Linked DNA regions of Homo sapiens. The protein of the gene in region 2 purifies or fractionates together with the protein of the main gene of each other region. This does not show direct contact. Each region holds a gene or a part of one and is shown on either strand. Other genes may lie near its edges.

Region 1 (7,836 bases), on a different chromosome or scaffold from region 2:
CCTCCCAAAGTGCTGGGATTACAGGCAAGAGCCACCGCGCCCGGCCACAGATATGACTATAGATCACTGGTTCCTACTCGGGGTGGTCTTGTCACCTAGGGAACATTTGGCAACATGGAGACATTTTTGGTTGTCACATCTGGGGAAGAGGGGCAAGCGTGGCTGGCATCTAGTGGGCCAGAGATGTTGCTAAACATTCTACAACATGCAGGACACCCCTCACACAACAAAAACTATGCAGCCCAAAATGTCAGCAGCACCAAGGTTGAGAAACCCTGCTATATAGACTAACTCACAGCAGTGCTGTTTGTCCCAGAGCACGATTCATATGTGGTGTGGGGGGGTTAATGACTGGCCTCCGCTAAGCACTTCATTAAATAGGTGTGACACACTGGGTGAGCCTGTAAGCACAGAACAGCCTGCTGAAAGCTGGGGAGGGAGGGCAGAAAAGTTTTCAAGAAGTGGCCGTGCTGCCGCCCCTACTGGGAAGTGAGGAGCCCCTCTGCCCGGCCACCACCCCGTCTGGGTAGTGTACCCAACAGCTCATTGAGAATGGGCCATGATGACAATGGCGGTTTTGTGGAATAGAAAAGGGGGAAAGGTGGGGAAAAGATTGAGAAATCGGATGGTTGCTGTGTCTGTGTAGAAAGAAGTAGACATGGGAGACTTTTCATTTTGTTCCGTACTAAGAAAAATTCTTCTGCCTTGGGATCCTGTTGATCTGTGACCTTACCCCCAACCCTGTGCTCTCTCAAACATGTGCTGTGTCCACTCAGGGTTAAATGGATTAAGGGCGGTGCAAGATGTGCTTTGTTAAACAGATGCTTGAAGGCAGCATGCCCGTTAAGAGTCATCACCACTCCCTAATCTCAAGTACCCAGGGACACAAACACTGCGGAAGGCCGCAGGGTCCTCTGCCTAGGAAAACCAGAGACCTTTGTTCACTTGTTTATCTGCTGTCCTTCCCTCCACTATTGTCCTATGACCCTGCCAAATCCCCCTCTGCGAGAAACACCCAAGAGTGATCAATTAAAAAAAAAAAAAAAGTGGCCATGCTGGGTGCGGTGGCTCACACCTGTAATCCCAGCACTTTGGGAAACCGAGGCAGGCAGATCAGTTGAGGTCAGGAGTTTGAGACCAGCCTTGCCAACATGGTGAAACCCCATCTCTACCAAAAATACAAAAAAATTCTCCAAGCATGGTGGCGCACACCTGTAATCCCAGCTACTCGGGAAACTGAGGCACGAAAATCACTTGAACCCGGGAGGCAGAGGTTTCAGTGAGCAGAGATTGCACCACTGCACTCCAGCCTGGGTGACAGAGCGAGACCCTGTCTCAAAAAAAAAAAAAAAAAAAAAAGAAGTGCTCTATTTCAGGAGAAACTGGCACTTTCTGAGCCTACTCTCCCCTAATGCCAGCTCTCCTGCTCACCCCACCAGGGTCAGAGCCAACTTTGCCTCCAATTCATAGTCCTTTAAGTAAGAATCCTTTTAATATGCCCTAATGTCCCAACCAAACTAATCTTGAAAGCTTCTATGTAGATACAAAGTGCTCCTGAAATCCCTATCCTCAGAAATGCTTCTGAGCCAAATGGGCTCTGAACCCTAAACAACCGTGTCCATGTATGTGGCAAGAGCTTGTGAAAAACAAAGCTGGGCCAGGCGCAGTGACTCACAACTGTAATCCTAGCACTTTGGGAGGCTGAAGTGGGCAGATCACTTGAGGTCAGGAGTTCAAGACCAGTCTGGCGAACATGGCGAAACCCTGTCTCTACTAAAAATACAAAAAGTAGCCGGGCGCGGTGGCTCACACCTGTAGTCCCAGCTACTCGGGAGGCTGAAGCAGGAGAATCACTTGAATCCAGTTGGCGGAGGTTGCAGTGAGCCCAGATCACGCCACTGTACTCCAGCCTGGGCAACAGAGCGAGACTTGGTAAGAAAGAGAAAGAAAGGAAAGAATGAAGGAAGGAAGGAAGGAAGGAAGGAAGGAAGGAAGGAAGGAAGGAAGGAAGGGAAGGAAGGGAAGGAGTCTCGCTCTGTCACCCAGGCTGGAGTGCAACGGAGCGATCTCGACTCACTGCAAGCTCCGCCTCCCGGGTTCGCGCCATTCTCCTGCCTCAGCCTCCCGAGTAGCTGGGACTACAGGCGCCCGCCACCACGCCCCGCTAATTTTTTGTATTTTTAGTACAGACGGGGTTTCACCGTGTTAGCCAGGATGGTCTCGATCTCCTGACCTCGTGATCCGCCCGCCTCGGCCTCCCAAAGCGCTGGGATTACAGGCGTGAGCCACCGCGCCCGGCTGACCAAAGGTTTCTTGGTCCGCATTCTGCTTCTGTGGAATGAGCCAGGAGCCAGTTAGGCCTGATTTGACATCTGATTTCCGGAGGAAAACCCAGACTCTGCCCTGGGCAACAAACTGAATCCTGAACTTGAGGTCACAGGGCAGGTGTGAGGAGCGGAGAGCAGCAAGAGTGAAAGGGAGGCCTGTGGTCATTCCATACACACAAGAGATCAGTTCCTCCAAGGTCAGGGGACAGAGAGCACAGGGATCCAGCGCCAAGCGCAAGGCCCCCAGAAGAAGCCAGAGAGTCGGGGAGGGGGCGGGGGGGAATCGGTCCCAGCAGGTGGGAAGGATTCTGGGACCAGACCTAAGGGATCATGAGCACAGCTGCTGCAGGCAGACGGGCCCCTGGAGAAGCTGGGGACAAGCTGGAATAGAGACTTCATTGCGGGAAGGGCTGTCAGGGAGGCCTCCTGGGGTGGAAAAGGGTGGTCAGGAGGCTCCTGGAGGCGGCGCGGCCCCGGGGGTCCAACTCACCTGGGGCCCGGCCACCGCGCTCTCGACCGCCGCCTCTGCCCGCGCAGCACGGGCACAGCTCGCCAGCACTGCGAACCCGGATGGGTCGTCGGGCGCGGCCCTCAGCAGAGCTGCCTTCACAGATGTGGTGCCCAGGTCAATGCCGAGGGTGATCGGCCGCGCAGCCATTATCTCCCTGACCCGCGCAGCTCCAGTCTGCAGCCAGCGGCCCCACAAGTCCGCGCTCTTCGCCCAGGGGGGCGGGGCAGGGGCGGGGAGTCGCCTGCCAATCTTTCAGCCACACCCAACATGGAGGCTTCTCGTCTTCCCACTGGCCGGGGAAGGCGAGCTTCCACGCAACCTCTCGGCGGGCCCCGGCTATAGGCGGAGAGGCGGCGGAAGGCGGGACCTAAAGGGGGCCCCGCCCCACGGGCTCTGATTTCCGCCCAATGGAGGGCGGTCTGAGCTTCGCTCACGAAAGGAGCCGGGAGGCGCTGGCGGCTCCAAGAGTCTCTGTGTCCCTGGCAGCGGACCTCATCTTCCCTCACGCCGGAGCCCCGATCTCTGCGCCCCGGCCCGACCCAGCTGCGCTCTGTCCGTCTAAGACGCGCGGAAACTACAACTCCCAGAGCTCATCTCGCCGAGATCCGGCCCCACGAGTCAGGTGGCGGAGGTCAGGTGACAGCGGACCCGCCTCTCCCAAAGTCTAGCCGGGCAGGGGAACGCGGTGCATTCCTGACCGGCACCTGGCGAGGCTCATGCGTCCCGTGAGGGCGGTTCCTCGAGCCTGGGGGCGCTCAGGTGAGAGCGGACGCGGCCTCCCCTGTTTCCCAGGCGGACCCCTTGAGGCACAGCAGGTCAGCGGGGCAGCCTGCCGGGGGTCCAGCGCCCTCAGCCGCGGCGGGCTCCTTTCCCCGCCACCAGTGCTGGCCTCGCGACACGGGACAACCCCCGGGTGGAAGGGCCCGAGCGGTGGTCAGCCGAGGCAGGGGCAGCGGGCTGCCGGGGTGGGTGCCGTTCCCAGCCCCTTACCTTCTGCTCAGTTGCCGCCTGGGTCTCGGTTGGGGAATTTGCAGATTGCTTTGGAGACGCTGAGAGAACCTTTGCGAGAGCGCCGGTTGACGTGCGGAGTGCGGGGCTCCGGGGGACTGAGCAGCACGAGACCCCATCCTCCCCTCCGGGTTTTCACACTGGGCGAAGGGAGGACTCCTGAGCTCTGCCTCTTCCAGTAACATTGAGGATTACTGTGTTTTGTGAGAGCTCGCTAGGCGCCCTAAGCAACAGAGGTAACCACTTTATATCCTTGTTTCTCAACCTCGTTATTCCTACCTACCCCCTTCCCATAAAATTTAATACCACTAGTACGCTGTGTATTTGTTTCTGTGGCCACAAACCATTGTAATAGCTAGATTTCTTCACTACCACCCCAAGCCAATTTTTTTTTTTTTTTTGAGATGGAGTCTGCAGCCTCTGTCACCCAGGCTGGAGTGCAGTGGCGCGATCTCGGCTCACTGCAACCTCCGCCTCCGGGGTTCAAGCGATTCTCCTACCTCAGCCTTCCGAGTAGCTGGGACTACAGGCCTGAGCCACCATGCCCAGCTAATTTTTGTATTTTTAGTAGAGATGGGGATTCACCATGTTGGCCAGGCTGGTCTCGAACTCCTGACCTCAGGTGATGCGCTCACCTCGGCCTCCCAAAGTGCTGGGATGACAGGCGTGAGCCACCGCGCCCAGCCTACCCCCAGCCAATTTTAGTCCCACTTGACAATGCGTGCTTTACATCTCCTCATTTAAGTCCTGTGAGGTAGTTACCACCTCCTTGTTTGGCACCACAAGGTCGCATAAGTAATAAATAGGTCAAGCCTGTCTCCAGTGCACACAGCCCTTGCCACTATTTGTGTACCCTCTCCAAAAGCAGGAGACCCAGGGAGTTCCAGGTCGTAGAACAGAGGACAGGACCAACTCATACCTGGCAGACAGGAGCTGCCACACTAGACCCCTAGCCCCAGGTTGCTCCTGGGAAGGGACTGAATGGGTGAGGAGCCTTCTTGAAACATGTGACATCTGAATGAGGCCTGGACAATAGTTAGAACTTACATAGGAAGGGCACGCCAGACAGAGCCCATTGTCAGGAGATACTTCATTTCTATCTTGTAGCTTTCACAAGCCACTAGTTGTATGTAATTATCAATCTGGTTTTTTTTTTGTTTTTTTTTTTTAATTTGAGACGGAGTTTCACTCTTATCACTCAGGCTGGAGTGCAATGGTGCAATCTCGGCTCACTGCAACCTCCACCTCCCGGGTTCAAGCGATTCTCCTGCCTCAGCCTCCTGAGTAGCTGGGACTACAGGCACATGCCACCACGCCTGGCTAATTTTTGTATTTTTAGTAGAGACGGGGATTCACCATGTTGGCCAGGCTGGTCTCGAACTCCTGACTTCAAGTGATCCAACTGCCTCGGCCTCCCAAAGTGCTGGAATTACACACACGAGCCACTGCGCTCAGCCTAATCTGATGTTTTTTAACATTTTAATTGACTTACCTCTCAATGTCGTTTTGTCTCTGCTGGCATCGTTCCTCCAGGGGTCTCAGCCTTTGAGGCTTGGGAATGTTTGCTGACCAAGTCTGTGAGTTTGAGAAGCTGGTTAGGCCTGATTCTGCATCTAATTTCTGGAGAAAAACCAGACTCTGTCCTGGGCAACAAACTGAATCCTGAACTTGAGGCCACAGGGCAGGTGTGAGGAGCGGAGGGCAGCAAGAGTGAGAGGGAGGCCTGTGGTCATTCCATACACGCAGGAGGGCAATTCCTCCAAGGTCAGGGGACAGAGCACAGGGATCCAGCGCCAAGAGCAAGGCCCCCAGAGGAGGCCAGAGAGTAGGTACGGGGTCATTCCCGGCCGGTGAGAAGGGTCTCAGATGAGGCAGACCTGCAGCAGGCAAAGAGAGAACCCTGGAGGAGACGGGCCAACAGAGGTCAGACAGCTGGAGCAGCCAGGGAGACTTCTTGAGGAGTGTGTAAGGGAGATGTCCGGAGATGCTGGAGGCCTTGGGGAAACTGAAATCAGAGTGGGAACAGGGATGTCTCCACACAGACCTTACCCAGAGCTCCCCACAGTCTGCAGGAGGCCCGTGAGACTGTGTACTGAGGCAGCACGGAGACCAAGCTACAGAAATCCATGCCGGCCTGGCTGCTCTTGACCCACTGTTCACCTGCTGTGTCTTGGGTTTACAGGAATGCAGCTCCCCATCTTCCACACTAAACCAAGGACTTGCTCTGGGGCTCATCCCTCCCCGAGTCCTCCTTGTGAATGACCCCAGCCAGTCCTGGAATGGTGACACTTGTCAAATAAAGTCTTGACAGGCGCGGTGGCTCCTACCTGTAACCCCAGCACTTTGGGAGGCTGAGGCGGGCGGATCACTCGAGGTCAGGAGTTTGAGACCAGGCTGGCCAACATGGTGAAACCCCATCTCTACTAAAAATACAAAAGTTAGCCGGGCATGGTGGGGGGCACCTGTAATCCCAGCTACTCAGGAGGCTGAGGCACAAGAATTGCTTGAACCCAGGGGGTGGAGGTTTCAGTGAACAGAGTTCGCACCACTGCACTCCAGCCTGGGCAACAGAGCAAGACTCTGTCTCAAAAAAAAAAAAATTTAAATATGTATATTAAAAAAAAATGTTTTTTTAAGTCTTAAGGGTCAGTTGGTGTCATCAGCCCTTAGACTCTTATCCCAGGACAGGAAAGGAAATTAATTTCCTTGAGGTTTATAGGTTCACAATGTCAAATATCTGACCACAGTTTTAACAACTTTTGGAGAAAAAGAATCTCAAGCCAGTAAAATTGCATTCTTTCTTTCTGCTAACTAAGTTTTTACAAAAAGCAATTGAAGAGGGAAAAATTCTGGTCTTTGTTCACTTCCTCAGGGGGGCACTTTACACAACCCATTTATCTGCTCGGAGCCCGTTTCCCCTGTATATCAAAGAAAGATAAGTCCTCTCTAGGGTGTCCCTCTGAGGCCGTGATGCAAAGCCCTGAGGTCACAGCTGTCAGGTGGCAGTCCTTTATGAGCCATCCATGCTCCAGAGGGCAGATTGTCTACAGGGAGCTGAGCTGATTCAACATTCCCCTGAACTTCTCTCTTGCTGTTTTTCTTCCTAGTTCTGAGAAATCGAGAAACATGATAAGGAATTGGCTGACTATTTTTATCCTTTTTCCCCTGAAGCTCGTAGAGAAATGTGGTAAGTTTAGAAATGACACGTCAACTTTGTAAAGAGGGAAATGGTGGCTAGAGGAAGGAGTAATCTGATCTGTTTGTTGCCAAGGGTTTAGAATCATTCAGACCACATGTCTCTGTCTGCCTCTTGGCCATGTGGCCACTGGGGTGGTGGAGCAGACCCAGGTCTGGGATCCAGGTGTTCTGCAAAGAGCCAGATAGTTCCACATATAATTGGCCTTCTGCCCTGGTATCTCTGTACCTTTCTGTACCAAAGTGAACAGCTGGTTCTTAAGGTCAGACTATGCAGCTGATTCTCAAAGTCAAACGGTAGAGCTCCAACAACCTGGGATAATATCTTAAAGACTGGCTCAGGCTGGAGCAGTGGCTCACGCCTATAATTCCAGAGCTTTGGGAGGCCAAGGCAGGAAGATCTCTTGAGGCCAGGAGTTTGAGACCAACCTGGGCAACGTAGTGAAACCCCATGTCTACTAAAAAATAATTTTTAAAAATTAGCCATATGCAGTGGCTCGTGCCTATAGTCCTAGCTACTTGGGAGGCTGAGGCAGGAAGATTGCCTGAGCCCAGGAAGTCAAGGCTACAGTGAGTTATGATCACACTACTGCACTCCGGCCTGGGCAACAGAGTTGAGACCCTGACTTTAAAAGAAAAAAAAGAAGAATGGCTTATGCCTCTGCCCTGTGGACCTCACAGAGAGAGTCTTGGGTCCTGGGAAACACTGGGGAAGCAGAAGAGGTAGCCACCCTGTTGTACCCGGTTCTGCCAGGCACAGATCACCTGAGGAGTCTGCCCAGCATCCCCTTGTAA
Region 2 (7,105 bases):
AAGTAAATTTGGGGGCAACTAGCAGGTAACCAAAATGGAACTCGGAAAATTACACCTCCAAGGAAAATCACAGCACAGGATACACGTGGCTGGGTGCCTTGGAACTCTCCCGTCTGATGCCACCTCCTCACCACTCAGCCCCCCACCTGCTCTGAGGGCACTGTCTCGGTGTCATCTCCATCCGTCTTGCTCTCTGTGTTTCCACGCTGACCCCTTCCTTTGTTCCCTGGTGCCACAGCGTCTGTGAGCGCACAGCCAGACCTCTCCCCGTTCACCACAGGGTCATCCTCAAGATCGTCAATGTTTATCTGGAAAAACAGGTTGGAGAAGAGCCAGGGCGTTACTTACAGTGTGAACGCTCATGCTGAGATATGAATAGTGAGATGTGAACGGGCTTGCGTTGGGGACCCCCAGGGTCAGTGCGAGACGCTGGACGGGAAAGATGCAAGAACCCGAGACTGTTGGACACAGCAGTGACTCAGCTCTGGCTCAGGGGGACTTTGTCAGCAGCTCTACAGAAAGCCGGGGCCCCGAGGCTATGGGGTATCTCTGCCTTCAGAGATGAGGTAAGGAAGACTCCTCAAATATTGTAATTTACTCCATTTACAGAGGACCATCTGCAGGACAAAACGTTAAATATATATATTCAGCCAATGCATTAAAGTTCCTTCTTCCTCCTTTCTCCTCAAGCCTCAGCTCCTCTCCAGCAGCAGGCAGGAAAAAAAGGCACCAAGGACCCATCAACCTACAAACTTTTCCTAATGAAAATGATAGGCCAGGCGAGGTGCTCGCGCCTGTGATCCCAGCACTTTGGGAGGTTGATGCAGGCGGATCACTTGAGGTCAGGAGTTCAAGACCAGCCTGGCCAACATGGCGAAACCCTGTCTCTACTAAAAACACAAAAATTAGCCAGGCACAGTGGCAGGAGCCTGTAATCCCAGCTACTTGGGAGGCTGAAGTGGTATAATCGTTTGAACCCGGGAGGCAGAGGTTGCTGTGAGTCAAGATCGCACCACTACCCTCCAGCCTGGGCAACAGAGCAAGACTCCATCTCAAAATAGAAAAACAAAATGACATACGATAAAAATAATTCATACGATGAAACCTTCTCTCTCTCTTTTTGAGACAGAGTCTCGCTCTGTCATCCAGGCTGCAGTGCAGCAGTGTGATCTTGGCTCACTGCAGCCTTGGCCTCCTGGGTTCAAGCATCCTCCTGCCTCAGCCTCCCAAGTAGCTGGAACTACAGGCGTGAGCTACCATGCCTGGCTAATTTTTTAAATTTTTTTGTAGAGATGGGGGTCTCAACACATTGCCCAGGCTGGTCTTGAGCTCCTGACCTCAAGCGATCCTCCTGCCTCAGCCTCCCAAAGAGCTGGAGTTACAGGCGTGAGCCACCACGCCAAGTCTGGAACCTTTTTATAGCAGTGAGAATGAATGAATGAATGAACCACCACTGAACACACAATATGGATGAATCTTAGGAGTATAATATTAAATGGATAAAACCTCACAACATACATTCACATACAGATTGGAGGGGAGACAGGCAGTGGGAGAAGGGTAAGAACAGGAAAAGTTCTGGCTCCTCAGCTAGTGAGAGGCTGACCGGGCACGGTGGCGGTGCACCCCTGTAATCCCAGCACTTTGGGAGGCCGAGGTGGGTGGATCACGAGGTCAGCAATTCAAGACCAGCCTGACCAACATGGTGAAATCCCGTCTCTACTGAAAATAAAAAAATCGGCCAGGTGCAGTGGCGCGTGCCTGTAATCCCAGCTACTCGGGAGGCCGAGGCAGGAGAATTGCTTGAATCCGGGAGGCAGAGGTTGCAGCGAGCCAAGATTATGCCACTGCACTCCAGCCTGGGTGATAAGGCGAGATTCCATTTCAAGAAAACAAAAAAAAAAGAGGCTAACAGATTGGGTGTGGTGGCTCATGCCTATAATCCCAGCGCTTTGGGAGGCTGAGGCAGGAGGATCATCTGAGCCCAGGAGCTTGAAACCAGCCTAGGCAATACAGTGAGACCCCATCTCTACAAAAAATTAGCAGGGTGTGGTGGCACACACCTCTTGAGTCCCAGCTACTCAGGCGGCTGAGGAGGACTGCGTGAGCCCAGCAGTCCTGGAATCTGGAACCTGGAGTGAGCCATGATCACACAACGGCACTCCAGCGTGGGCAACAGAGCAAGACTCTAGCTCTAAATTTTTTAAAAAAAAAGCTAACAGAGACCAGCATCAACAATTCTTTATGAACTAGGAGATTCTGATGGATCCAATCGGATGCACTAAGGTTCAAAAATAAATAAAACTGCCTGTTTAATTTAAAACATCTTGAAAACCACAAACCTCAGAAAACACAATCAGCTCCAAGCCCCATAGCCCTGAGATAGTTTCTGAAACAGAATTGAGACTCGGCTGCACCTGGGAAGACAGACACCCCGGCTGCGGTTGCTGAAGAGAAGAAAGCACAGGGCAGGTCTGTGCTTGCCGGTCAGTCGGCTTTCTCTCCAATGGAGGCTCCCACATGACAAGGATACGATTCAGGAGCATCTTAAACGCCCGCTGAGACAAGTCAGGAGCAACTTACGCCCGTTGAGAAAATCCATGGCAGTATAGACGTGTTATGTAAACAGAGCCCCTAACTTGAAAACACTGACACTCCACCAAAACGAGGTTTGTCCCATCCCAGCAGCACCATGATGGTGATTCTCATGGTGATGCCTCCTTCTGCCTGGCCTTTGCTGGCGAAGCTGGGGCCTAGGCATGGGCCGGCTGCCTTGCACCCTGCAGTAAAGGAAGAAAGCTGAAACAAAGCCTATTGTTGAAATGTTTCTAACCTGTGGGTGGTCACTGGTAAATTGGATCTACACCATCTCCAACATTCAACTAATGATGATGTCTCTTAGTGAAGCTGGGTGCTGGTTTACTTGTCTGTTTTTAGAGATAGGGTCTCACTGTGTTGCCCAGGCTGGCCTCAAATTCCTGTGGTCAAGGGATCCTCCTGCCTCAGCCTCCCCAGGAGCTGGGACTACAGGCACACGCCACAACACCCAATTTACTTTTTTTTTTTTCTTTTTTTGAGATGGAGTCTTGCTCTGTTGCCCAGGCTGGAGAGCAATCGCATGATCTTGGCTCACTGCAACCTCCGCCTCCCGGATTCAAGTGATTCTCCTGCCTCAGCCTCCCGAGTAACTGGGACTACAGGCATGTGCCGCCATGCCAGGCTAATTTTTGTATTTTTAGTACAGATGGGGTTTCATCATGTTGGCCAGGCTGGTCTCGAACTCCTGACCTCAGGTGATCTGCCCGCCTCAGACTCCCAAAGTGCTGGGATTACAGGCGTGAGCCACCGCGCCCGGCCAACACCCAATTTACTTTTATTAACTCATGCTGACTTCCTAAGAAAAAAAATTCTTATTTTGAGGTGTTTGACAAATCGAATTCATAAAAAGCTCTATGCCAAGCTGAACTTCAATGGAAAGGAGCCTGTGTACACGGACAGCACGCGTGATGGGCTCAGGAGCCTGCCTGTGTACACAGACAGCACACATGATAGGCCCGGGAGCCTGTCTGTGTACATGGACAACACGTGTGACAGGCTCTGAAGCCCATCTGTGTACACGGACAGCACGTGTGATGGGCTCAGGAGCCTGCCTGTGTACATGGACAGCACGCGTGATAGTCCTGGGATCCTGACTGTTTACAAAGACAGCACACATGATAGGCCCAGGAGCCTGTCTGTGTACACGGACAACACGTGTGACAGGCTCCGAAGCCCATCTGTGCACACGGACAACACGTGTGACAGGCCCCGAAGCCCATCTGTGCACACGGACAACACGTGTGACAGGCCCCGAAGCCCATCTGTGCACACGGACAACACGTGTGACAGGCCCCGAAGCCCATCTGTGCACACGGACAACACGTGTGACAGGCCCCGAAGCCCATCTGTGCACACGGACAACACGTGTGACAGGCCCCGAAGCCCATCTGTGCACACGGACAACACGTGTGACAGGCCCCGAAGCCCATCTGTGCACACGGACAACACGTGTGACAGGCCCCGAAGCCCATCTGTGCACACGGACAACACGTGTGACAGGCCCCGAAGCCCATCTGTGCACACGGACAACACGTGTGACAGGCCCCGAAGCCCATCTGTGCACACGGACAACACGTGTGACAGGCCCCGAAGCCCATCTGTGTACACGGACAACACGTGTGACAGGCCCCGAAGCCCATCTGTGTACACGGACAACACGTGTGACAGGCTCCGAAGCCCATCTGTGTACACGGACAGCACGTGTGACAGGCCCAGGAGCCCGTCTGTGTACACGAACAGCACGTGTGACAGGCTCTGAAGCCCGTCTGTGTACACGGACAACACGTGTGACAGGCCCCGAAGCCCATCTGTGCACACGGACAACACGTGTGACAGGCCCCGAAGCCCATCTGTGTACACGGACAGCACGGGTGATAGGCCCAGGAGCCCGTCTGTGTACACGAACAGCACGTATGACAGGCCCCGAAGCCCATCTGTGTACACGGACAACACGTGTGACAGGCTCTGAAGCCCATCTGTGTACACAGACAGCACGGGTGACAGGCCTAGTTTTGCTTCTTCAGTGAAGTTTTGGTGATGACACATGATTTGCTGCAATCTCTACTGCCATGCATCAGCTCTAAAATGCTGTCAATCACCGTCAGACAAACCTTATTACTGGCTGGGCGCGGTGGCTCACGCCTGTAATCCCAGCACTTTGGGAGGCAGAGGTGGGCAGATGGCGAGGTCAGGAGATCAAGACCATCCTCGCTAACACGGTGAAACCCCGTCTCTACTAAAAATACAAAAAAACTTGCCGGGCGTGGTGGTGGGCGCCTGTAGTCCCAGCTACTCAGGAGGCTGAGGCTGGACAATGGAGTGAATCCAGGAGGCAGAGCTTGCAGTGAGCTGAGATGGTGCCACTGCACTCCAGCCTGGGCGACAGCGCAAGACTCCGTCTCAAAAAACAAAACAAAACACCTTATTACCTACCCAAAAGCTGTGATTTTCATTAGTTTTAGGGTCTCAAATGGGGAACATTTCACAAGGTTCTTGTCCACGACTGATCTTCTTTAGGATAAAGCTCGATCAGCATTTCAGTTAATAACCAGGAAGGAGTTTTATCTTTTTTTAGGGGGAGAGGAAAATGTCCATTTTTCCTAAAAAAAAAAAAAAAAAAAAAAAATGGTGATTTTTAATAGAGACGGAGTTTCACCATGTCGGCCAGGCTGGTCTCGAACTCCTGACCTCAGGTGGTCCACCCGCCTTGGCCTCCCACAGTGCTGGGATTACCGGCATGAGCCACCGCACCCAGCCTGAGGTTGTCTTTTTTTTTTTTTTGAGACAGGGTCTCACTTTGTCACCCAGGCTGGAGTACGGTGGCGTCATCTCACCTCACTGCAGCCTCGACCTCCTGGGTTCAAGCCATCCTCCCGTCTCAGCCTCCCGAGTAGCTGTGACCACAGGTGAGTGCCACTATACTTGGACAGTTTTTTTGTATTGTTTGTAGAGATGGGGTTTTGCCACATTGCCCAGGCTGGTCTCACACACCTGAGCTCAAGTGATGGATCTGCCTTGACCTCCCAAAGTGATGGGATTACAGGTGTCAGCCACCAACCCTAGCCTGGAATGTTTTATACTTTAAAAAATTCAGTATCTTTAATAGATAAAAGGGCTCAGATTTTTTTATTTCTTCACATGTCAATTTAGATAAGTTTTATCTTTAAAGGAACTTGCCCATTTGTCTAATCTGGAAAATTTATTAGCAAGAAGTTCCTTATCGCCCGTTACTATCTGCACCATCTGTACCTGTGAACACTCCTCTCCCATCCCTGAAAATGGTAACGTACCTGGACCTTCCCTTTTTCCCTCCATCAGTCAATCTAGAGTTTTTGCCAACTCGTCTTTTGAGAGAACCAAGTTTCGGTCTCACCGATTCTCTCCATCGTGTCCATACTCTATTCTGTGCATTCCCCTCTTTGATTAGTTTCTTCCTTCGACACATTTTGAGTTTAATTTGCTCTTTTTCTAGTTTAAGGTAGAAGTTTCAGGTAAATTTCTAGATTTTTAAACACTTTTCTAATTTAAAATTTACGATGATAAAGTTCTAATCATCGTTTCAGTTGCATCCCACAAATTTTGATAGGTTGCTATTTTCATTACCAATCAGTTCAGAAAAGATTCTAGGCCAGGCATGGTAGCTCACATCTATAATCCCAGCACACTGGCTTTCAAAAAAAATTGAAAAAATTAGCCAGGTGTGGTGACACCCACTTATAGTTCCACCTACTTGGGAGGCTGAGGTGGGAGGATGGTTTGAGCCCAGGAGTTCAAGATTACAGTGAGTTATAATTGTGACATTGAACTCCAGCCTGGGCAATAGAGCGAGACTCTGTCTCCAAAAAACCAAAACACACACACACCCACACACAGCAAAAACTGACAGGGTTGAAAGTAGAAATAGACAAATCCATAATTATTATTACGATTTATTTATTTATTTATTTATTTATTTTTTTGAGACAGAGTCTCGCTGTATTGCCCGGGCTGGAGCCTGGTGGCACAATCTCAGTTCATTGCAACCTCCACCTCCTGGGTTCAAGCAATTCTCCTGCCTCAGCCTCCCAAGTAGCTGGGATTACAGGCACCCACCACCATGCCTGGCCAATTTTTTTTTTTTTTTTTTTTTTTTTAGATGGAGTCTCGCTCTGTTGCCCAGGCTGGAGTGCAGTGGCACGATCTCAGCTCACTGCAAGCTCCGCCTCCTGGGTTCACGCCATTCTCCTGCCTCAGCCTCCTGAGTAGCTGGGACTATAGGCTCCCGCCGCCACACCCGGCTAATTTTTTTGTACTTCTTTAGTAGAGGCGGGGTTTCACCGTGTTAGCCAGGATGGTCTGGATCTCCTGACCTCATGATCCGCCCACGTCGGCCTCCCAAAGTGCTGGGAATACAGGCATGTGCCACCACGCCTGGCCCAATTTTTGTATTCTTAGTAGAGATGGGGTTTCACCATGTTGGCCAGGCTGCTCTCGAACTCCTGACCTCAGGTGATCTGCCCACCTCCCA
Region 3 (7,105 bases), on a different chromosome or scaffold from region 2:
AATGAAATGCTACTTATTAAACAATACTGTACACGCCTCAGATTTTTGGGTGTTCTTTTCCCCACAGCCAAGAAGCATTTATTGGCAGGCTGGCTCCAGAAACATAGTTGCAATATGCTAATACTATTCACAAAAAATTACCTTGATGAAGAGGGCCAAGCTACTTTCCTTAGTAACTAGAATACTTAGAAAAATAAGAATAACAAGAAAAATTATTATTACTTAGTAGTAATAATACTATCAATGAACAATGAATATTCGTATGATGTAATGACAATGTTCATTATTTAGTAGTAATGTTCTAATATTGTACAGTTGTAAGATATTATTGTAATAGAAATGAACAGTGAATATTCATCCAATATAATGACCATGTTCCTTACTAAGTAGAAATGTTCTAATATTGTACAAAATTGTAATATTATTGTAATAGAAATGAACAACAGATATTCATACAATGGACTACTACTCAGCAAAGAAAAGTGAATAAACTACTGATACAAGCAAAAACATGAATGAATCTCAAAAGCATTAGGTTGAGTAAAAGAAAGCAAACACAAAAGAACATATGCAGTGTGCATGGATTTATATGAAGCCCAAACACATGTACACCTAATCTGATGGCAATCAGAAAGTGGCTGTTTTTGGCATAGGGAGAATGGATCCATTGTGAAGAGTGAGGAAGAAGCTTCCAGGAGTGATTAAAATGCTTTAGACAGAAAAAAATCATTTGCTATTTAAAATTTCCATTACAGTGAAGAAATTAGCAGTCACAGATGTATGTTTATAAAATCAGGATTTTGAGCTAAAAAGAGGATGACCAAACACCTTAGTTTGCTTTACACAGTCATCCCAGCATAGACCTGACAGCACAGCATAATTGTTAACAGCACCTCCTTCACAGTCAAAGGTATCCTGATTTAAATGAAGGAAGACCTTTATGGTCACTTTAGTTAAAAGGAAACATATACTATTTAGTAAAATGAGCTCATTTACTTTTCTGTTCAATCCATATTTACTAAGCACCTACTATGTGGTTAAACATAGTCCCTTTATTGTTGCTACCACTTCAGATTTCCTCTTTGTTTCCACAATCAAAATATAAAATGGCTAGATGAATTTTTCCCAAACATAAAATTTACACCTGAGGACAAACTAAATACCAAAAAAATCAAGATTCTTTCTACAAGGAAAATATAAATCAACCATATAGAAAAAAAAGATATAACTTTTAGAGCTATAAAAAACAAAGTATATAAAGATATTCACAAATATAAAATAAAGAAAATCTTTACCTGCTGCCCTGTAAAGTATTTTAGGTTCAAAAAATATACAAGGATTTTTATCCTCTATGCATGACAAAAGAAGTCCTTTGGCCTGGAAAGGGCTTCTGGGTATAACCACCTGCAAAAACAGATTTTTTTAAGACAATTTTAGTAAAAATATATCCCAGTAAACTCGCTGCTAAGAAGGGCTGATATTTAAATAATCAATTGTTACTAATTAAAAATAGATATTGGCTATTTATTTTAAGCCTAATTATCACTTATTAAGTTTACATATTATATAAAAATAAAAATGCCTCTTATTCAACAGATATTTATCAGATGTCTACCATGTTCTGTTAACTAAGATACTACTCTTAAGAAGCTAAACTTGCCTATATAAAAAAAATAAAAAGAATATGCAAAGATCATTCATCAAAGCAAAAAACTGTAATATTGTTAATATCTACCTGTGTTTATCTATGAAGAAATCTCTTCTACTAATAATCTGTTTCTACTTTCAAAGTACATGCAACTCTCTTCTCCAGTTTTAACATGTCAAAATCTTCTTTTCCCATGAAAAAAAATATGGTCTTCATTTCATAAGTGAAAAATTAGTCCACTGAGTTTTACAGTCCAGGCACCATAGTGTCCAGTTATATAGCAAAGCAAAAACAAAAGTGTGGATAGTCCACACTTCCACTCACAGGAAAGGGCTCCAGGACCTTCTCGAGAATGAGGGTGATGACAAGGAAGATGATAATGACAGTAGGAAGTACACGTGTAAACTTGGCCAAGCACTCTGTGAATTAATTCATCTGTTCATAGCAACCCCACTAGGTAGCTATTATAATGTTCCTCATTTTAGAAATAGACACTGAGGTTTAGAGAGAACAAGTAGCTTGCCTAAGGTCACACGACTTGCTTGATCAAAGAGTCTCACCCAATTCCCACTGATACCAAAGCTCAAGCTCTTAACTTCTATCTAATGTTGACTTAAATCACAAACTTTGTCTAATTTTAAATGATTATAATTGTTTAAAGACAAATATTATATAGGAAGAGTTATTAAAATAAACCTGAACTTACCACAAAGACTTAAGATTCCCTGAGGCAAACTATATTTGGCTTTCAAAGCCATTTTTATGCCATTTTTATTGAAGGGTTTTATTTTAAAAATAAAAGAGCAGCAAAAATGTCACTATTTTCTGTATAAAAAATTTTATTTTCTGTTCTGGACCTCTGAACACATTAATAACCATATCACACAATGTCTTTATCTTATGTTCCTACTTTTTAAGTTCCCTTCATCTGCTTTCTTCATATTAGCCTTTTGTACTTTAAGTATATTTTCATTTCAGCTGAAAAAAAAAGGAAAAAGGAAGAGGAAGAAAGAAAATGAAGGAGGAAAAGAGAAGGCAGGGGACAGACAGAAAAGATCTGTTCTTAAAAACAATATAATGTTATAAATATTAAATGTGAATTAATGTTTAGCTCAAGCACAAAAATAACTTGCCTCGCACATGGCTTCTTTCCCAGTCTACAACTTCTAGCTCACATTCAAAAATCAGGCAACATCTACTCAACTAAGATAAGCTTATAACTTTGATCTGGTAGAAAAAACAAATAAGAAAAAAAGAATAAAACATAGACACATGCTCACAATCAATTCATGTGGTCAAAAAACAAATATACATCTCTGGATTCACACATCTATGGGTTTCTACAATGATCCCCTGAAAAGCTTATTCAGTAAACAGAAACAGAAAAGATAATACAAAAAATTAAGACATAAAAAACTCAAAATATTTTTACCATCAAAAGACCTAAGCTTTTGTGAAAGACAGGTTATAAAAAGGAGATGCTTCAAAATTAATTGGTTGAGCAAGTATTACCTAACTTTAAACAGAAAAAAAAAATCTAGGTAACAGTCTTCTCTTAGTCTTTTTAACAAGTAAGAAATACATTAAAAGCAAAAGTGTTATCCCTGTGACTTTGAGGTAAATACAGACTAAACAAAAGATTTATTAAAATCACCCCATCATCAGTTAAGTGAGAAAGACTTAAGTTAGAAAGAAATATAAAGCTTTGAAAGAGAGGGGAGGTAAACCAACTATGTTCTTGGTCTTATTCTTTGAAGTCTATAAAATTAATCAATGCCAGAGTTTATAAAACCAGTCCTCCTTCAAAAAGAACTTGCTGTAAAACTGGGCATTGGATAGCATACTTAAAAGAACTGCTAACCTCCCCTTCTTAAATACAGTTAAGTTCACATAAATTCCAAGAATCCTGTTTGTTTTCTTTCCTCTAGATAAGCATAGATATTAAATAGAATGAATCAAAATGGAAACATCAAATAGAAATCAAATAAAGTACATAAATGAACATACCTTGATTCCTGGGCAATGGGCAAAAAATGCTTCAGGACTCTGAGAATGATAGAGAGCCCCATGACCAACACAGCCCCAAGGGGACCGGATAGTGAGGCTTCCACAGTTAAAAAGATCCCCAGAGCGATAGCGATACTTGGCAGCTTCATTAACAATCTGAGGGTCAGAAAGAAAGACGGGGCATGGCACAATGAGTCCTTCCCTTCCAATCTCCTTCCGTTCTTCCTCCCTCCCTCCCTTCCTTCCTTCCCTTCCCAAGGCACAATGAGTCTTTCCCTCCCTCCCTGCCTCCCTCCCCCTCTTCCTTCCTTCCTTCCTGCCTGCCTGCCTTTCTTTCCCATAGCACAATAAGTCTTTCCCTCCCTTCCTTTCTTTCTTAAGACAGGGTCTCGTCCCTCCCTCCCTCCCTCCCTCCTTCCTTCCTTTCTTCCTTCCTTTCCCATGGCACAATGAGTCTTTCCCTTCCTTCCTTCCTCCCTCCCTCCCTTCCTTCCTTCCTTTCCCATAGCACAATGAGCTTTTCCCTCCCTCCTTTCCTTTCTTTCTTGAGACAGGATCCCATCACTCCCTCCCTCCCTCCCTCCCTCCCTCTCTTCCTTTTCTTCCTTCCCTCCCTCCCTCCCTTCCCTTCTTTCTTTTTGAGACAGGGTCTTGTCTTTCCCTTCCTCTCTCCTCTCCTCTCTCCCCTCTCCCTTCTTCCCTCTCCCCTCTCTCTCGCTCTTTCTTTCTTTCTCTCTTCTTTTCTTTTTGAGAAAGGGTCTCATTCTGTCACCCAGGGAGTGCAGTGCTGCGATCACAGTTCATTGTAGCCTTGGACTCCTGGTTTAAGTTATCCTCCTGCCTCAGCCACCAGAGTAACTGGGATGACAGGTATGTGCCACCACACTGGGCTAATTTTTGTAGTTTTTGTAGATATGGGTTCTCATTATCATTATGTTGCCCAGGATGGTGTTGAACTCTTGGCCTCAAGTGATCCTCCCACCCTGGCCTCCCAAAGTGCTGGGATTGCAGATGTGAGCCACTTCACCCAATCCCAATCTATCTGCTTAAACTATTCTATTAGATCTTTAAATATATGCTCATAACAAAATTATAATTGTAATACATTAGTAAAAGGATAATAAAATGTTTAGAATGCAGGTAAGGGTGGGTGGAAGGGTAGCGGCAATACTTGAATATTTCAATGAATGAACAACCTTAGAAATGTTCATTCACTTACCTGATCAAATGCAGGGAAAATATAATCTGCAAACTGAATTTCCGCAATGGCAGTAGCTCCAGTGACCGCAATTCCGATTCCAAATCCAACAATTCCTTGTTCACACAATGGGGTATTAAAAACTCTATCTTTTCCTTAAAATAGAAAAGAAAAAAAGGTTAATGTGGCAAATGAGAGTAATGTCATGCATAATACATTTAAAAATTCAGTAAACTAATAATGGGATGGAGAAGTATAGAACAGGTAGAGGAAACAGAAAATAAAGAGTATGGCTAGCCACGGTGGCTCACACCTGTAATCCTAGCAGTTTGGGAGGCCAAGGCAAGAGGATTACTTGAGACCAGGAGTTCAACACCAACCTGGCCAACATAGTGAAAACCTGTCTCTATTAAAAAAAAATAGTAAGGTGAATTATTTAAATCCAATTAATAATTGTATTAATTGTAAGTAATCTAATGTTTCAATGAAAATAAAAACTGTCACACTAATTTAAAAGAAAGGAAAACCCAACTATTTGAAAGGAAACACAAACTCTAAAGACAGAGAAAGGTTGTTAAAAAAAAGAAAAAAGAAGGAAAAAATAGACAATAAAAAACCTAACCAAAAGAAAGTTGATGTCACTATATTAATAGCAGGCAAAGTAGACTTTCAGGAAAAAAACATACCAGAGATAAAGAGGGAAAACGCATACTGTTAAAGGGTTCAATTCACAAGAAATAAATAATTCTAAATCTATACTTATCTAACAATGGGCTCCAAATAAATGGAAAAAAGCAACACAACTAAAAGGACAAATGGACAAAATCACCACATAGTGGGAGATGATTTTTTAATGTACTAGTCTTAATAACTGACAAAAAAGGCATACCAAAAAAAAGGAGGGAGTGTGAAAAATAGAGATGATTTAAACATGTTCAACAAACATGGCCTAACTGACATACAAAGGACACTGCACCCAGAAGCAAAGAATACAAATCCTTTTCAATTAAACAGAAAACACTGACATCAATTGACCATATACTGGACTACAAATCCAATCTCAACAAATTTTAAAAGATGAAAATTACATATATTCTCTGACCATAGTGTAATTAAGTTAGAAATCAATAAAAAGATCATTCAAAAAATTCTTATGTTAGAATTTTTTTTTTTTTTGAGATGGAGTTTTGCTCTTGTCACCCAGGCTAGAGTGCAATGGCGCAATCTCAGCTCACTGCAACCTCTGACTCCTGAGTTCAAGCCATTCTCCTGCCTCAGCCACCCGAGTAGCTGGGATTATAGGCGCCCACCACTACACCCAGCTAATTTTTGTATTTTTAGGAAAGACGGGGTTTCACCATGTTGGCCAGGCTGGTCTCGAACTCCTGACCTCAGGTGATCCACCCGCCTCGACCTCCCACGGTGCTGGGATTACAGGCATGAGCTACCGGGCCTGGCTAGAAATTTTTTTTAATAAATAGCTAAGTAACTCACAGCTCAAAGAAGAAACTATAATGAAAATTAGAAAGTGGTATTTTAAATTGAATAATAATGAAAAAACTATACAAAATATCTTATTGAGGTTCTGAACGTAATGTCAGAGTTGCGTTTTTCAGACTATCCTTTCCACATTTAATGATTATAAACTCTGGGCAAAATAAAACAAACAACTATTTAAAGGCATTGAAGGGCCAAAAGTAGGCATAAACTGGAGTCTTGACTCTTGAAAGAAATTAAGCCCAGTGGATGACCATGACGTTCATAAGCCTTGTCCTGCAAAAGGACTCCCCAGTCTATGAGTCAGGACAGCTAAAATTCAAACAAATAGACTCAGTCTGGTTGATCTGAGGTGTCAGAAAATAGTCTGTGGCTACCAGTGGTTGAAAATTGAGAGACTAAATCCCTAAAAGAAGGGCACAGCATGGAGGAGCCCCAAAATCTGTGCAAAAACTGATCAAATCCTTGCCAACACTTGTGCCCACAGGACACTCCAAAAGCCCAGCAGCAAATAATCTCTCCCAGTTAAAAGAGCTGTGCCCACCAACAAGGAGGCAGATTTTGGAGTTTGAGACCCTTCAAATTAGAGAAGTTTGATAAACCCTTTAGACGATCCATTCGAACCACTAGGTACAATTTTATTAGCGTATAATTCAATTCTCACTTGACGTTTCACCACCTCTCAGCTCATGCCAGAATTTCATTAGAAATTATAATTTCAGGATTCTGGGTGGACAAAGACAATAGCCACAGTC

What was found.
Region 1: the proteins of TCF25 (region 2) and SHPK purify together in Homo sapiens (affinity purification with mass spectrometry; 2 studies listed by BioGRID and IntAct, with this or other methods). This does not show direct contact.
Region 3: the proteins of TCF25 (region 2) and BCKDHB purify together in Homo sapiens (affinity purification with mass spectrometry; 2 studies listed by BioGRID and IntAct, with this or other methods). This does not show direct contact.

The regions. Positions count from the first base shown.
Region 1 is NC_000017.11:3,633,235-3,641,070, forward strand, and holds the start of SHPK (sedoheptulokinase), read right to left. Parts: upstream 3,017-7,836; 5' UTR 2,986-3,016; coding exon 2,818-2,985; intron 1-2,817. Other genes in the region: CTNS (cystinosin isoform 1 precursor), read left to right, coding at 6,973-7,033. UniProt on the Homo sapiens protein: Acts as a modulator of macrophage activation through control of glucose metabolism.
Region 2 is NC_000016.10:89,876,554-89,883,658, reverse strand, and holds part of TCF25 (ribosome quality control complex subunit TCF25), read right to left. Parts: intron 309-7,105; coding exon 147-308; intron 1-146. UniProt on the Homo sapiens protein: Component of the ribosome quality control complex (RQC), a ribosome-associated complex that mediates ubiquitination and extraction of incompletely synthesized nascent chains for proteasomal degradation.
Region 3 is NC_000006.12:80,165,581-80,172,685, reverse strand, and holds part of BCKDHB (2-oxoisovalerate dehydrogenase subunit beta, mitochondrial isoform 1 precursor), read right to left. Parts: intron 5,009-7,105; coding exon 4,875-5,008; intron 3,812-4,874; coding exon 3,656-3,811; coding exon of another isoform or gene 3,629-3,655; exon of another isoform or gene 2,470-3,628; intron 1,405-2,469; coding exon 1,296-1,404; intron 1-1,295. UniProt on the Homo sapiens protein: Together with BCKDHA forms the heterotetrameric E1 subunit of the mitochondrial branched-chain alpha-ketoacid dehydrogenase (BCKD) complex.